Linked DNA regions of Homo sapiens. The protein of the gene in region 1 binds, or shares a complex with, the protein of each later gene. Each region holds a gene or a part of one and is shown in the gene's direction. Other genes may lie near its edges.

What was found.
Region 2: SATB1 (region 1) and HOXB2 share a complex: the UniProt entries of both Homo sapiens proteins name them as parts of the nuclear protein complex.

Annotation. Positions count from the first base shown.
Region 1 is NC_000003.12:18,379,467-18,387,908, reverse strand, and holds part of SATB1 (DNA-binding protein SATB1), read left to right. Parts: intron 1-1,297; coding exon 1,298-1,510; intron 1,511-8,442. UniProt on the Homo sapiens protein: Crucial silencing factor contributing to the initiation of X inactivation mediated by Xist RNA that occurs during embryogenesis and in lymphoma.
Region 2 is NC_000017.11:48,541,902-48,549,723, reverse strand, and holds HOXB2 (homeobox protein Hox-B2), read left to right. Parts: upstream 1-4,614; 5' UTR 4,615-4,812; coding exon 4,813-5,203; exon of another isoform or gene 5,204-5,766; coding exon of another isoform or gene 5,767-5,830; intron 5,831-5,976; coding exon 5,977-6,656; 3' UTR 6,657-7,069; downstream 7,070-7,822. UniProt on the Homo sapiens protein: Sequence-specific transcription factor which is part of a developmental regulatory system that provides cells with specific positional identities on the anterior-posterior axis.

The DNA of each region.
Region 1 (8,442 bases):
TATCTTTAAATTTGGGAACAAAACCAGGTTTGTACTTCTAACAAACCATGAAAAAAACAAATGTTTTAACCTTGGGGCTTCATTGTTTTGACATGACACGTTACCTTCCTTCCCCCAATATACCTTTAACTGTTTCTGCAGGATATTGGAAAGTAGATTTGCAAATTATATAGAAATCCTGACAAAATTTTATTCTGAAGCTGATACTCTGGCTAAGTGAAGAAACCAAATATGTCTTACTATTCCAAGCATTATTTCATGTACAAGATTAAAGAGAGAAGAGCTGCTTAGCCCTTATAAAATGAACAGAAAATTTTCCAATTCTTTTATTTCATATTGTCTCTTAAATGCAATGGGGAGAACCACCCATTTTTGAAAGAGTTCTTCCAAAAGTTAAAAAAATTAGTTGAAAATTGATGTTCTGTTATTTAGGGGGGAAAGACACCTTAAGAGTTTTCTAATGATTTATAAATTTCTTCTATCACTAACAATTTTTATTCCCCAAGAAATTTGATAATTACAGAATTTGATACTCTTTTCCTTGGCATGCTGTGATGGACTTTCGCAATGTTGAAAATTAGTTAATATATTTCAAATCTTGTCTATGGTTTTTAAAGTTCAAAATTTAAACCTGTTACCCAGTGGTATAATACAGCAAGATAGTATTTAGAATCATTTGTGATAATCAGTGAGGTTCTCTGAAAATGGTAAATTGAAAGGGTCACGTAGTGTCATGTACTTTGATAAGTCAGAGTTTAAGGAATAATTTTAAACATTGCCTGTGAAAATACAGCATAAACCTTAGGTGATGCTTTAGTAATAACCTTTGTTCTAATATGTTAAAATTCATTTTCTGGTATTTTCTTTGAAAGTTCTACTTCTCTAGAAATGGCTTTGTATCTTTACATATTGGGCTGTAGGCATTACACTGCCTTTGTCTAGGCAGCTTGGGAACTATACAGTTCAGTGCTGTTGCATTATAAGGATTTCGTTTATTCTTAACTTCCCTGGATCGTCTCTCTGTGAAAGATTTCATGGCAAGTTAAGCTACTCAAAGGAAGGAGACCAATTAGGCAGTTTCAGTTTATGTTATATGTAAAGCAGATGCTTAATAAAATTAAGAATACAATTGAGGCTCTCTTCTCTACCACTTCAGTTGTAACTAATATATTCCTATGCAGAATTAATGCCTCTGACTGTTCATTTTCTAAACAGAGTGGAGAAGAAAAGGGAAGGATCACTGCTGGCCAGGCAAAGCAAGGCAGCAGGCTCACCCTGTGCCTTTCATTTCTTGCAGGGCTTGCTTTCAGAAATCCTCCGAAAGGAAGAGGACCCCAAGACTGCATCCCAGTCTTTGCTGGTAAACCTTCGGGCTATGCAGAATTTCTTGCAGTTACCGGAAGCTGAAAGAGACCGAATATACCAGGACGAAAGGGAAAGGAGCTTGAATGCTGCCTCGGCCATGGGTCCTGCCCCCCTCATCAGCACACCACCCAGCCGTCCTCCCCAGGTGCGGTCTCCTTTTCCTCCTTGCCCTTCTTTGTTTAGCTTTTTTTTAATGCTTGAGGAAGAATCTCAATAAGAAATTAGATAGATAGATACATAGATTTATATGTTTTTAAATTCGTATAGTTGCTTGAGGAGAATTTGGTCCCAAATCATTAATTCTGATATAAAAACAATAAGCTCCTAATTAGATAGAGGGAAGAAAATTGCTTTGTGTTCCTTCATTCTTTGGGTTATTTGGGGGTGAAAGTAGTCTTTAAATGGGATATTTGTCTCTACTGTTGTTATTAAGTAAAGTATTTTAAACTCAATAGAAAAAGAATAAAGTCAGTTTTTTCCCAACTGGTTTCAGAATCGCCATTTGAATAGTAAATAAATAAAAATAAATAATTTCATTTGTATTTATACTTTCCAGTACGAACTGCAGCTGGTACCAATTACACACCATCTCATTTGTAATCTTTCATAATTAAGTTTAATAAAATCCTTGAAGGCAGCTTTAAATGGGGCTGATAAGGAATTCTATCCATACTCCAAGATACGGGCATGTTTTCTCTTTCTTAAAATTTTTGGACTTTTTAGGAAAGAAAGTTGCCTTCCGGGTAACTTTGGGTATGTGAATCTGTATTGTTTTTTAAACTAAGTTTTAAAAGTAACCTCATAACTGTTATAATTCAGTAAATCAATTTGCATTACAAACCCTTAGATAAAAGTTTGCTAGTTAGTGTATTAGACTCAAAAACCACAAGCAAATATATTATCTTTTTTTTTTTTTCTTTTGAGATGGAGTGCCGCTCTGTCACCCAGGCTGGAGTGCAGTGGCACGATCTTCACTCACTGCAAGCTCTGCCTCCCGGGTTCACGCCATTCTCCTGCCTCAGCCTCCCAAGTAGCTGAGACTACAGGCATCTGCCACCACGCCCAGCTAATTTTTTTGTGTTTTTAGTAGAGACGGGGTTTCACCGTGTTAGTCAGGATGGTCTCCATCTCCTGACCTCATGATCCTCCCACCTCGGCCTCCCAAAGTGCTGGGATTACAGGCCTGAGCCACCGCGCCCGGCTGCAAATGTGTTTTCTTACATGTTTAACTTGTGACATTTACAGCTCTTAAAAATAAGGTCAGTTAAAATTGGATAAAAATTGAACATGGAAGAAAAAGTCGAAATATTCATATGACAATCTCATAGTGAAATTGTATCTCGATTTTACTTCATTCTCATCAATGGTAGAAAGTGGTTATACATTTTCATGTATAGAAATCTAGAAAAAACTCATTCAACACTAAAGAGTGAAAGTACTACGGATACTGCATAAATAAGAAATATTTAGCCACTTGTTGAGTAGCTAAATAAACTGCTTATCATAAGGTTCTGAAACTATTACTTTTTAGAAATGTCACAAAATCCATTTTCACTAGTTTATTTAATGAAAATCAATCTGGTCTTGATGTCTATAGGAACAGACTATAAGGAAATCATTGCTATAATTGTGAATAAAAAAGTCATGCTTCTTTAGGAGAAAAGCATGGCATCTATATACGTATGTACACACCCACCTGCCCACGCACACAAAGTTATTGAATTTGATCTCTAAATGCTTCTATAAAATATTTCCTAAGATAAAGAATGAGGAACTCTTTATGTATAAAAAATATGACTTCTAAGTATGGTTAAAGAGAAAAGATAAACTATGACTTCTAGGAATGATAAAAAAGAAAAAATATACGAAATGAAATAAAATAATTTGGTTTGGTACTTTTTCTGTAGTGTTTAGTGTTAATACACACACTTTTATTAGTTAACTTTGCTCCTGAAGTCACCACTGACAGGGCTCTGAGCAGAGAATTACTTTACTTATCACTTAATCTGCAATACTAATAAAAGAATGGCTTACTTAAGACCAATATGAACTTCAACATTGAACTGCTTTAAAAAAAAAAAAAAACATCTAGCCAGATATTTGACTTTGTGGTTCCTTAATACAGCTTTTGTTTTCTAATTTTTCTAGGACTCTGGTTTTATTTATTTTCCAAATGTGATTTGGGTGTCCTTACTCATCAAGCTTTTTCTTGAGCTAAAGTTATACCAATTCTTATTAAGTGATATTTCTTTTCATATGCTGTTAAGATACTATAGGATAACTTTCCTGTATGTATGCTTAAAGGCTTTATCTGCTGATAAGTTGGGATAGAATATATGTTTAATTTATTTTTGCCTGAATTATTGGTTAACTGGTTGTGCCACCCTTAGCTGTATTTGTTTGTTCTGAAGAGGAGCTGAGACCAAGCCCATAGCTAGGGTATTCAGCCAATGATGAAAATATACAGTATATACATACTGTAGATTCTTAGTGAAACTCTTTCAAATAAAACATTTCTATTACTGCAGTATTACTGGCCATCTAACCAAACTCCAAAATGACTAACTGATATGTGTATGTGTGTGTAATTTTATTTTGCTGCTGCAATATAAATCTTTAAATTATTAATATTATTATAATGGAGATCACTACCAGTTTGTTCACATTCTTCCCTTTAACCATGATTAAATGAATTAAATTTTAAGAAATCTTAAGGTATTAAAGGTATTATCAATGCAAAATTAGTACTTTAGATTTGGAAAAACACGTTATAGAGCACTTGAATTAGTGCTGTCTTGTAGCAGTTGAAATAATGAAATGATGCTTAAACTGGAACCAGTATGCATATTAAAAATGAGTTAAAATAAAGGATAAAATGGAGAAAACCACAGATAACACAGACTGCAAAATTTTGTCTTTTTAAATTTTACATTTTGCCAAAGAGGAGTCCATGTGAAATCAGTATACATTTCATTTCCCCCAAAATGAGGAGATTTGAAACATATTTTGAGACAAATCTTGGGTTTGGGTTGCACCTGAAACCTGATTTCTTTCTAAAGAACCACATGTTAAAAGCAGAGGCCCTCAGTGGTTCACAGAAAACCCAGCCCCCATTAAGGCCTGGGAAACTGGATTCTCTTCCACCTCTTTATAGAGTGTAAAACATGCAGAAGATGATTTTGGAGTGCCCTTGGGACATACCATAACAAGGACCTAAACTATTGAAGGACTTGAATTCTAAGTCATCTTCAAGAAAGGACTTCCTGGCTAGTCAGACCCCACCTGGGGACACCTAGCCTCAGGAAACACCAGAGCTCCTTGGTGGCCCAGTCCAGGTGAGATGCCTCCCTGCAGAGGTATCCCATGTGCTCCAGTAGGGACAGTTATGCCCTGTGCTTCATCCTCTGCCTGGGCTATAGGCTCTGGGCCAGACCTGGTTGCTGCAAACATTTTCACAACTTACATGCTCTAATTCAACAAATAAGAATATCTTGCACCTGATAATGATTCACACCCTAACTTGATAAAAGCTATTCTGAAAGCAGCTGAATACATTAATTCATTGAATCCTCATACCAACCTTTCCCTAGAAGAAAAATGAGAAAACCAAGTTTAAGGTTGAGTCAGAGTTTTCAAATCCTCTGCTAAGTCTCTTGCTCCTTCCTCTACTTCAAGCCACCTCCTCAGAATAAAAGCAAACTTATTTTAGAAAGGGAAAAGTGAAACTTGGAGATCTTTTTGTTTGTCATAGAGGATGGGAGGTTTTCTTGTTAGAATGGGAAGAGGAGCATGTGCTAAAGCATTGTCCTAATGAAATAACTTGTTTGACAAATTATCCAGTTGGGAAAACTAGACAATGGCATTTCTGGGATTGTGGGGAGAACAGCCCCTTTTAAACTTTGGTCTCATGAAAATATCTGGGAGAACCCAGTCCTCCCAGCTTCCTTGGTCTTAAGGTTTCTTTTCACTATAAGCTTTGCAGATTTTCCTGATGAGTTTATTAGAGGAATTTTTATGAACAATAATAATTCATGATTATTATCTGAGAATTGTATATTTTACAGAATTTTAAGTGATGATTTCTACCGTAAGGGTATACTTTTTAAAATTTGATTTGTGCATTTTATGGTGTGTGACTTTTGGAGTTAAATTAATTTAGCAGTTTGTTTCCATGAAGACTGTTTGAAAGCATATAATTACTGAGTTACAGCTTTTACATGAATTACACAAAAGTCTTTTTTTCTTCATTTTTTACATCTCTTTATGTAATTCTTCATTTTTTACATCTCTTTATGTAATTACCTAAAGAATTACTAAAGGTATGCTATTTCATAACAATGCTTTAGAAAATTTATGAAGTTAATATAAACAGTATATGATTAATCTGGTAGTTGCACTATTTTGTCTCTTTACAAGAAATCCCTCTACGATATAATGAAACATAGGTTCATCTTGATTTCAGGTTCAGTTACAGGCAGGAACTTAACACTTGGTAAAAGTTTTATTTCTTATGAATCCCTTGAAGATCATTTTAAGATGTTGCTTATGTGGTTATAAAATGCATCCCATTAATTGTCGTCTTTTAAAAGCTGGAAGACTTTTAAAGGCTAGATTTGGAAAATAATACTGTTCCTGGAAGGAAAGAAATATCTAAAAATATGAAACCATGGTGCTAAAGACAGTGTTAATATATTAAAATTTGAGAGTGGGAAATATTTTCCATCACTAATAAGCATCCATAAAAGAGGACATTTCTTATTTTCATTAATAAGAAAATATAATTTTTATACCCTGAAAAATAAATTTAGATTGGATTTTAATCAAAAATCAATAGCTATTAAAAAATTAGACATTAATGAGCTAGATTTATCAAAGGGCCACCAAAAAACAAGTCCAGCCTGCTCTAAAAATTAAGAATTTTTTCAAGTAAAGAAGGTGCAGGTAATGTCATGAACTCTAAATAACTTTGGGTTTCTAGTTAAGTTTAGATCTCAGCATTGCTCCACCAACAAATTGTTTAACCTGTTTGTTTTAACGGAGTTTTCTCAATTTTAAAATGGGACAATCATAATACCTCCTCCGGGCTGTTAGGCAAGTTAAGAAGTTAATATACATTAATACAATGTCCAGCACATAATAAACAACTAATAAATGTCAGTGTTTATTATCACAATTATTAAAACTACATATAACTTTAATTTTGCTTGTGTAAAAGCAGTGTGCTTGCAGGCAATTCTTCATGCATCAGAGTAGGATGTTCACCAATCAAGGCTGAAATAGAGTTCATTTCGTGTAAAATCTAAAAGCATGATTCAATGCATACAGCAATCCATGAAGAAGCAAAATAGAGTTTTTATGGAAAATGTGTGTCCTGCGGCACAATTTTAGTGAAATAAAAAGCAGACTCTAGTGCTGCACCCTATCCCCACATGGGAGGGTAAGTAGTAGAAGCTCCAATTCTTAACTACTTCCCCGGCGCCGCCTTAATAATGGAGTAGTACACCCTACCTTGATAAAAGCTATTCTGAAAGCAACTGCATTTATTTTACCTCCTGTGCTATTTGCGGAGAAGAGCTGAACAGTAGTTTGTTTTGCCTGGAATGAACTACTTTATGAATTTTAATGTGTGATATAATATTAAAAGCTAAACCAGGATTAAAGAAGATTTTTTTGTACTAAGCTAAAATAGTACTTAGTAGAGTGAGGTATAAAAGATTTTTGTTTCCATTTTTACCTGGGGAAAAATTCAGCTTTCATATTTTTGAAAAGCTGTCCAAGTCAGTTTCCCTTAAGCAATAGCTTGTGTTTAGGAAAAAAAAAAATGTGATTCTAGAATTCTAATAGCTTATCTATGATAAGATGTGTATCTGGGCCAACAAAATGGTAAAGAAGAGCTTTCCTAAATATTTTTTAAATGAGTAGTACAGAGATACTTTCTAACTTTGTAATTGTTAAAGTTTCACCCTCACATTCTTTTTTTAAAAAAAAATATTTCTTGTATACTTTTTTCACTTTTGTTTTGATTGTGTTGGCTACTAGGAAATGATTTTTTAAAATAATTTAGAATTTGTGCTTGATTATAATTGCTTTAAAATAAAAAAAAAAATTAACCAAAGAAGTTTTTAGAAACAAAGTCACAGGGTTGAAACAAATGATTATAGCGCACCTCAAAGATAAATTCTTAAACATCATTTTTACAAAATAATGAAAATTACTTTAAAAACAGATCGAAACACCAACTTTCCAAAGTCTGTTCTTTTAACTATTGCTTAGCAGATTGCTACCAAGGATCTGTTTCTTCAGTGCACTGGACTTGGTGCCCCCATTTCCATAACATTCAGTTTTCAAAATGATTGAAATGGCTTTTCTTTTCTCTTTCATTTAAGCAGTGAGAAAAATAGGTATTAAAAGGGACCCCATGGGGTGATCAAATCTATCCCTCTGCCTCAAAGCAAGACCACCCCAGAGCAAAGTTTCCAATCTCACCAAAGCAACTTTGTAGGCAATTTATGGTAATGTGTTGTTAACTCTTCTGGCTCTTAAAGTGGTGTTTAACAGATTATTGCTTCAAAGCCCTGTATGTGTTCTAGTGGCCTCCAGTCATTAATATATCTCTATGAGTGCCCTTGCTTACTAGAGTGGCAAAGCTAGAAGGGGAACTCTGGAGAGGAGGCGGATGAGGCCCCACCTTTGGTCACCTGTCCTGCCTTACCTGCTGTGTCCCCTTCAGGCCTGCGGGCCAACTATTTCCCAGCATTATCTTTTCCATGCTTGGAAAGGTGGTATCATGGTGAAAGCATCTACCAGCTTTCTCAAGATAAGCAAGAGGTGAATTATTTTGCTAATTGGCTAGAAATTAGGATTCAGCAGGCACATTTTAAAGGGATCTCCTATTTATGCTTTAAGTACGGAGAATTGAATCACTGAATATTTTAGGAACAGAGTAAAATAAATCTTAAAGTCCTGCAGCTTGACTCAAAGGCTATATCATTTAATGCCAAAAAAATCATTTGTTTATTCTACAGCATACTTCATTTTCTATTTTCATGGTTTATGTGAGAAATTGTCCAGGATGGT
Region 2 (7,822 bases), on another chromosome or scaffold:
ATCAATTACAGTTTTTAGAGGGCTCAGGGATGGTGAGAGATCCTGAAAGAGCTGCCTATATTATAAATTATATACATTTTTTTTTAAGGAAAAGTGTGGAGGCTAGGGCAGGCAGGTTGTTAGGACTGAAGGTTTGCCCATTCTGCTGCCTCCATCTCAGCTCCAGCTCCATCCCCCTCTCCACAGAAAGCAGTTGGTGACACGAGGTTCTATACTTTTCTTCTGTTGCTCTCTTGACTTAACGTGAAAACAGGGTATATTTGAACAAACTGTCCCAGGCAGGGGCTGGGCAGGGCCTGTGTGCCTTGCTCAGCCTCCTGACAGGACACTTTTGTTGCACTTAGAATTTACATTTTAATGGATGTAAAAACAACTGTGAGAGATGTCTGGGCCTGCAGAAGTCCAGCATTGCTCAAAAAAGCGTGTGTTCTAGTGAACATTTTCATATATATTTATTGGTTATAGCCTGTTAAAATATTTTCTTTTTTGTATTATTTATCCCCCTACATTATGTATTTATATGAGGGAAAAAAAGGAAAAAATTGTACTTTTTTAGTATTTACCTGTTACAAAGGACATTGTGTTTCCTGTCATGTAAAACCAGCTATTTTAGTTACTATTGTACTCTAGAAAAGAGCTGTAGATTTATGTTAAACTCGTACTTACGAACAATTGTAATTAGTTCTAAAAGGCATGAACTCAGCTCCTAATCGTCACTGTATAGTCCTGAATTTGTAGAACTAGAGTTAATTCCCTCTTGGAACTTTCTTTGTTCTTCAGTAGTTACTTTTTTCCTTACCTAAAAGGGTTGTCTGTCAAACAATTCTTGAATAAACTTTCTGTTATCAATTTTATCTTGTCCTGGTGGTCCAATTTAGATAGCAGAGCAAGGCTGCTGACTGCCAAATTTCCCCCAAGGGAAGAAGGACAAGGACAAGGACACTGAAGACCCTTCCCTGGCCTTTTTGTCCACTGCCCAGGTTCCTGTCTCCCCCTTGATATGTCTTAAGTTTAAATACCATTTTCTCACTCATAAGAGCCTGTAACATTTTGCCAACTTCTTCAGCTGTGGTTTAAGTAGCAAGTTGGGAGGTAACGGGGGACTCTTGGATGCTCTCTGTAGGTTTTTCTGTTTGGCCTGTATGCCTCTAGGTTTTTCATTCATTGACCTTTCGTCTGTTAGCTCCTTTGGCCACAGCGTCCATGCACCCCCCACCCCCCACCCCTTCCCACCACCACCAAGAAAATCTGGCCGATTACGGTTTCTTCCACGAAACCTAAACTTCACAATCCTCTTCCGGAGCCACAAAGAAGGTGTCACGTGACCCGAAGCCCAACCACCATTGGGTCTAAAATGAAAACAAAGAAAAATGATTAATCTAAAAAAAAAAAAAAAACAAAACTGAGGCCTAGACTTCTCAGGTCAAACTTTAAAACTAAGTAAAATTAAATCACTAAATAAAACTCGAGGCGGAGGGAGGGGAAGCACGTTCGATTTCCCCTGCCAGAGAAAGGGGAGAGGAGGGTGGGAGAAGCTGTTGGATCCAAGCGTAAATAAAACGGTCCCCAGGCTAATGTGCGGCTCTGTTTCCATCATCCTTGGGAAAACTTCATTTCTTAGTTGTGGTTCCATAAAAGTTTTATCACATTGGAGTGAAAATAGAGAAGGTCTGTCAAAGATGAAATGTCACCGCCGAGTCGCTGGAGCCGATAAGAGCGAGAAGACAGGGCGGCTGAAATATGGAGCTAATTCGTTGAAAGAGAAGCGATGGCTGCTTGCTGAAGAGCTGCATAATTCTAATTGTAAGCGATGTGCCCGCATTGCTTAATTAGGAGCATATATTTGGTGGTAGTGATGTTGGGGGAGTGAGAATCGTTCCAGGCCCTGCCTTAAAGAGAGGGCTGATTTTCATTTTTATGTTGCATCCTGGCAGTCCAAGGTTAGTAATTATAGTCTTTATGCAACAATAAATAACAATAAAAAAGCAACCTGAACTCTACGCCCTCCCCCTTCCCCACCACCAAGTAGGATTTTAACTGGACTCATCCAAGCAGCAAGCAATTTAGCATTGGGTCAGGCTATAATTTAAAGGCATAAGAGCGTGCAAAGTTTGATTGGGATCAAATAACGCTCAAGGGTTTTTCTTTCTTTCTCTTTCTCTCTTCTTCCTTGAATAACATTTTCTGAATGATATAACTAGATGAAGCACCATGTTTGGCTCTGGGGCTGGGTTGGGTTGTTATTTATCTAGCAGGAAAGAGGCCAAGAAAGAGAATTTAGCTTAAGTTTGAAAAACAGAGCTTTGGCTCGAAGCTGGAATTGCAAACAAGAAAAATAAGAACCAACTTGGCTTGGTGTTCCCTATCCTTCTCTTTGGAAGATTCCAGGCGCTCAGCTAAAGCAGCCAAAGACGTGGGTAAAATATCCGTGCTGTTAAATTCACAGCAGGACAGGGGGGCGGGGGAGGGATGTCTCTGAAAAGGAGGGTTCTCTGGGCCCCTTTTAACACCCAAGTTTTCCGCTGTTTGCTAATCTGGCCATAAAATCTGTCAGTGAGGGTTAGAGAGAGCTGTATTTCCTGCAGGGACAGTCTGCCCGAGTTGCCTGAGATAAGCTCTGGATCCTTCAGCCAGCTACAGAAGCTGTTGCTAAACTTTCAGAGGTGTTCAAGGGGGTGGCCAGAGGGAGAACCCACTCTCAGGCCTCCCTGCATGACTTCCAGACAGCTACTATTTGGATTATTCTATGCCCACCCCCATCCACACCTCTAAATGGCAAAAATTGTTTTCTTTGGAGCCTAGTTGCACACTACTGTCGCTGGCCACTTTGCCCAGGTCAGAGCAGCTCTCTCTGTTCTGAGCCCTCCAGAGCATGCCTCCTCGGTCCCTGCAGCCCCCACCTCCAACTCCCCTTTCTCCATCCTCCTCTCCCCCACCCTCATGCTTCTACTCAGACTTCTCTGTCCTTCTTTTTAAGTACTCACGCAGATGTTACACTGACAGAAAGTTTCTAGTTCCAGCTCCGGGCTCAGTTGCCATTTCTCTGCTAACCAGCCTTCTCCTCCTGGCTGGGCAGCAGAGAGAGAGGAGGGGGAGGGGAGGCCAAAGCCATGGGAGTTCTCCAGGCAAACTTTCCACCCAACTTAGCGCTTTCCCTCTGTCCCCATTTCCCATCTGTTTCCCAGCTCTCCCAGAATCACCCTTCTCTTTTGCACCCCCACCCCCACCCCCAGGCCTTTTTAAGGGATGTGAAATTTTGGCTGTTCGCTCTGCTTTCCCAAAGAGCCAAATTCTTTGATGCAATCGGAGGGAGCTGTCAGGGGGCTAAGATTGATCGCCTCATCTCCTCTCCATCCGTCTGACCCACTTATTTAAAAATCTTCCCCCAGATCGACTTTTCATTTTCTGCTTTGAGGCCTAGTTTCCCACCAATTGCTTGGGGCTCAGAGTCTTGTGCCCTCTCCCCATAGTAAATTACAACACTCTAAACTTCAGACTATCTTGGTCTCCTCAAAATAAAATAAATTTTAAAAACATTTTCCCCCAGCAGCCAGAAATGGAATATCATCTCAGTGGTCATTATTTCCACCCCTACCATCTTCAGGGAATTCTTCCTTGTCAGGGATTCTTTTTTTTTTTTTTTTCTTTTTTCTTTTTTAACTAGCACAATGGCAAAAATGGGAGGGAAAGTCTCTTTGTCCTAGGGGAAAATCTCCCCACCACACTCATGCACACACATAACGCTGATCTGAACTTTGAGAGTGCTCTAAGTTAAACCAATGGCTACCTCAGTTCTTGTTCATGTCCCTGGATATGGATACAGATACAAGCTTGAGGCTTGAGTGGGTACATGCACATCTTAGACTCTGCCTGTTTTTGGGGGATGTCACAGAGAAGCATGGAAGCCTGAAAGTGAGGAAAGCAGGGGTACATAAGGGGCAGAGGCAGTGCTGCAAACACTGGGCAGAGAAGAGAACCCAGACCATACAGCGATGGAGGCCAGAGGCCCAAAAATGCCCCTTATGCTCCATCTCACTCCTATGTGTCTGCCTGGGAGTTCCTGTCCATTTCCCAAGATTTAACTGTTGTTTTTGGAGGGTAACAGGGATAGTGGTGTGATGATTGTAAATCTCTTTCTTATTTTCACCTTAATACTGACCTTTTTCAAAGAGTGGAAGCCTCTTTCGACTCCCTCTTCCTCCAACGCGGAGATCCTCACTCATCTTTTCCTGGGGAAGGGGAGAAGGGAAGGGGATGCTGCTGGCCACGTAAAGAAGGCCTTAATTTACTCTATTAAAATACTTGGAAAAGAGGAAGGTTTCTCCCTTAGAGTCTCTTCTTTTCCAGGCTTCTGAAACCTTCTAACCTTCGAAGGGGATGAGGAAAAGGTTCCTCTAGCTTTTCTGGAGAAACGGAGGCATTGGGGAGAGAGCATGTGAGGCACTGGTGTAGGAATGGGGGCTCATGGTGTCCTGGTCGTGGTCCTCTGGTGTTTTTGAATCAATTAAACCAAATAATGCTCTCTGTTTTCCACCAGGCCCAGACGAGCGATTGGCGGAGGCCGGTCCCGTGACCACGAATTCCCTGTAATTTCGCTGGAGTCCTGGGTTTAATAGAGAGAGTCCCCATACGCTTGTATTTATCAGCAATATACAATTATAAAGGCCCAAAATTAAAAAAAAGAGAGACCGAAATCTCCCCCTCCCAAAATCGCTCCATTACATAAATCGGGGGGGGTGCAGGAGGGGGGTCCCTTCCGATCCTCCCTCCTGACGCCCCCCCCAGCAGCCCCCTCCCCCACCATTGAAAGCCATGAATTTTGAATTTGAGAGGGAGATTGGGTTTATAAACAGCCAGCCGTCGCTCGCCGAGTGTCTGACTTCCTTCCCCGCTGTCTTGGAGACATTTCAAACTTCATCAATCAAGGAGTCGACATTAATTCCTCCTCCTCCTCCTTTCGAGCAAACCTTCCCCAGCCTCCAGCCCGGCGCCTCCACCCTTCAGAGACCCAGGAGCCAAAAGCGAGCCGAAGATGGGCCTGCTCTGCCGCCGCCACCGCCGCCGCCACTCCCCGCTGCCCCCCCGGCCCCCGAGTTCCCTTGGATGAAAGAGAAGAAATCCGCCAAGAAACCCAGCCAATCCGCCACGTCTCCTTCTCCGGCCGCCTCCGCCGTTCCGGCCTCCGGGGTCGGATCGCCTGCAGGTCGGTAAGCGTGGTGGGGGTGGGGTGAGGGGCAGCTAGAAGAGGGGGAGAAAAAGCAGTGGAAGGAGGTTTAAAAAAAATGGTGGCGAGCCTGTTGGGGTTCCTTACCCCCTCCATTCCTGGGATGGGGAAGTAGAATATCCCACTGGGGTTCAGGCCTGGCCGCTAACAGCGTCTTTTTTTTTTTCTGTCTCTCTCTCTCTTTCTCTCCCTATGGCTGATTTTGGAAGCTGGTTGGGGAAACGCCTTTTTTTCTGCTAGAAGAAAATGATTTGATTGAGGTTTTCACCCGTATCTGTGTAGGGGAATGAGTATGTTGTTGCTGGGATAGACCCTAGAAGCAGAAAAGATTCGGTCCTTTCTGCCCCAACTCTAGGAGAAGAGGAAGAATTCAGAGCTAGGGAGGAAGAGGGGTGAAGAACAATCTTTCTGACCCTCGCTCCGGTTGAGTTGGAAAGTTCCGAATTGAGGGGTCCACTGGGAGGGCTTGGGAGGGGGATCTGAGGTTCCGGCGCCGAAGGGAGCCGCTCTCCGCCCCCTGCGTGGCCCGTGGGCGGCTCTGAATGCTTTGCCCTGACCCGGGCCGGGGCTGTAGACTAGAGAGGGAGAGAAGAAAACCCAAAAGCAGTAAAGCGAGCGGCTTTGGGGTGGGGGCGGGGGTGGGGTGGCGAGGAAGGGGAGAGGTGATACTGGTTTTGGAGGATGGGGTAGTCCGAACTGAGGTTGGGCTGAGTACACGGCCCGCTATGACGCCGAGCCTGTTTTCCCTGCAGATGGCCTGGGACTGCCGGAGGCTGGTGGCGGCGGGGCGCGCAGGCTGCGCACGGCTTACACCAACACGCAGCTGCTGGAACTGGAGAAGGAATTCCACTTTAATAAGTACCTGTGCCGGCCACGCCGCGTCGAGATCGCGGCCTTGCTGGACCTCACCGAAAGGCAGGTCAAAGTCTGGTTTCAGAACCGGCGCATGAAGCACAAGCGGCAGACGCAGCACCGAGAGCCGCCGGATGGGGAGCCTGCCTGCCCGGGAGCCCTGGAGGACATCTGCGACCCTGCCGAGGAACCCGCGGCCAGCCCGGGCGGCCCCTCCGCCTCGCGGGCGGCGTGGGAAGCCTGCTGTCACCCGCCGGAGGTGGTGCCGGGGGCCTTAAGCGCGGACCCCCGGCCTTTAGCCGTTCGCTTAGAGGGCGCAGGCGCGTCGAGTCCCGGCTGCGCGCTGCGCGGGGCCGGCGGGCTGGAGCCCGGGCCATTGCCAGAAGACGTCTTCTCGGGGCGCCAGGATTCACCTTTCCTTCCCGACCTCAACTTCTTCGCGGCCGACTCCTGTCTCCAGCTATCCGGAGGCCTCTCCCCTAGCCTACAGGGTTCTCTCGACAGCCCGGTCCCTTTTTCCGAGGAAGAGCTGGATTTTTTCACCAGTACGCTCTGTGCCATCGACCTGCAGTTTCCCTAACCTGTTTCCTCCTCCCGGTCCTTTCGACCCCCGCGCTCCTTGGCCGTCTACTGGAAAAATCGAGCCTCTCCCACCCTCAGTCGCATAGACTTATGTGTTTTGCTAAAATTCAGGTATTACTGAATTAGCGTTTAATCCACTCCCTTTCTTCTTCTTCTAAAATATTGGGCACTCGGTTATCTTTTAAAATTCACACAGAAAAATTCCGTTTGGTAGACTCCTTCCAATGAAATCTCAGGAATAATTAAACTCTAGGGGGACTTTCTTAAAAATAACTAGAGGGACCTATTTTCCTCTTTTTTATGTTTTAGACTGTAGATTATTTATTAAAATTCTTTAATAATAGGAAAAGGGGAAAGTATTTATTGTACATTATTTTCATAGATTAAATAAATGTCTTTATAATACCAAAACGAGTGTTTGTGTTGGGACCTAAACTCTTTCCCCGCGGCCCCAAGGCCGGTCCTCACCCCTCCAGGACCTGTGCGAAGTTGATTAGGTTCAGCGGCCCATATGGCAGCAAAGCCTCCAGGGCCGGCGAAGTCCGGGTGGTACAAAGGTGACCCGATTGATGGCCGCTTCGCCCACGGCTCCGGCAAAAGTCGGGAGTTTGCAGGAAGCTGGGTCACCTCCCCGCCCCTCAGCAGAGGGTCTTTGGTCCTGAGCGGGTGGTTCTGGGGCCTCTGCTTGGAAATAGAGATGGGCAGGTCGAGGGAGAGAGTGTACAGCGAACAGAGGAGGGTGAAAGGAGAGGAAGCCTGTGGACAGTCTTCAGGGTCGTGGCGGGGGCAGAAGTTTACTGGAATTGGGAACAATCCAAGGGCTTCCTAGGCTTTTGCTTCTTATGACCGAAGCCGGTGTAGGACCTTTTTCCGAACTCAAGAAGCCTAGGGACGCGAGGCCTGGGGCTTGAGCCGGGCCTCTTTGGGAGCTGTAGGTGGCTCTCCAAGGAGTGGAGTGGGGTCGGGGATTTTCTCGGGAAGCAGGGTCCCGCACCCAGGGATGGTAACTGGCTTCCCAGTGGGCAAGAAAAGAGGCCAGCTGAGAAATGTGGCGCTGCCGGGACACCCATGGACTCGGGCTGCTGGGGTTTGGGAGACCATCCAAGCAGCAGCCGGGCGAGAAGCCCAGGGTGGCCCGGCAGCGTCGCGAGGCGCTGGACCTGC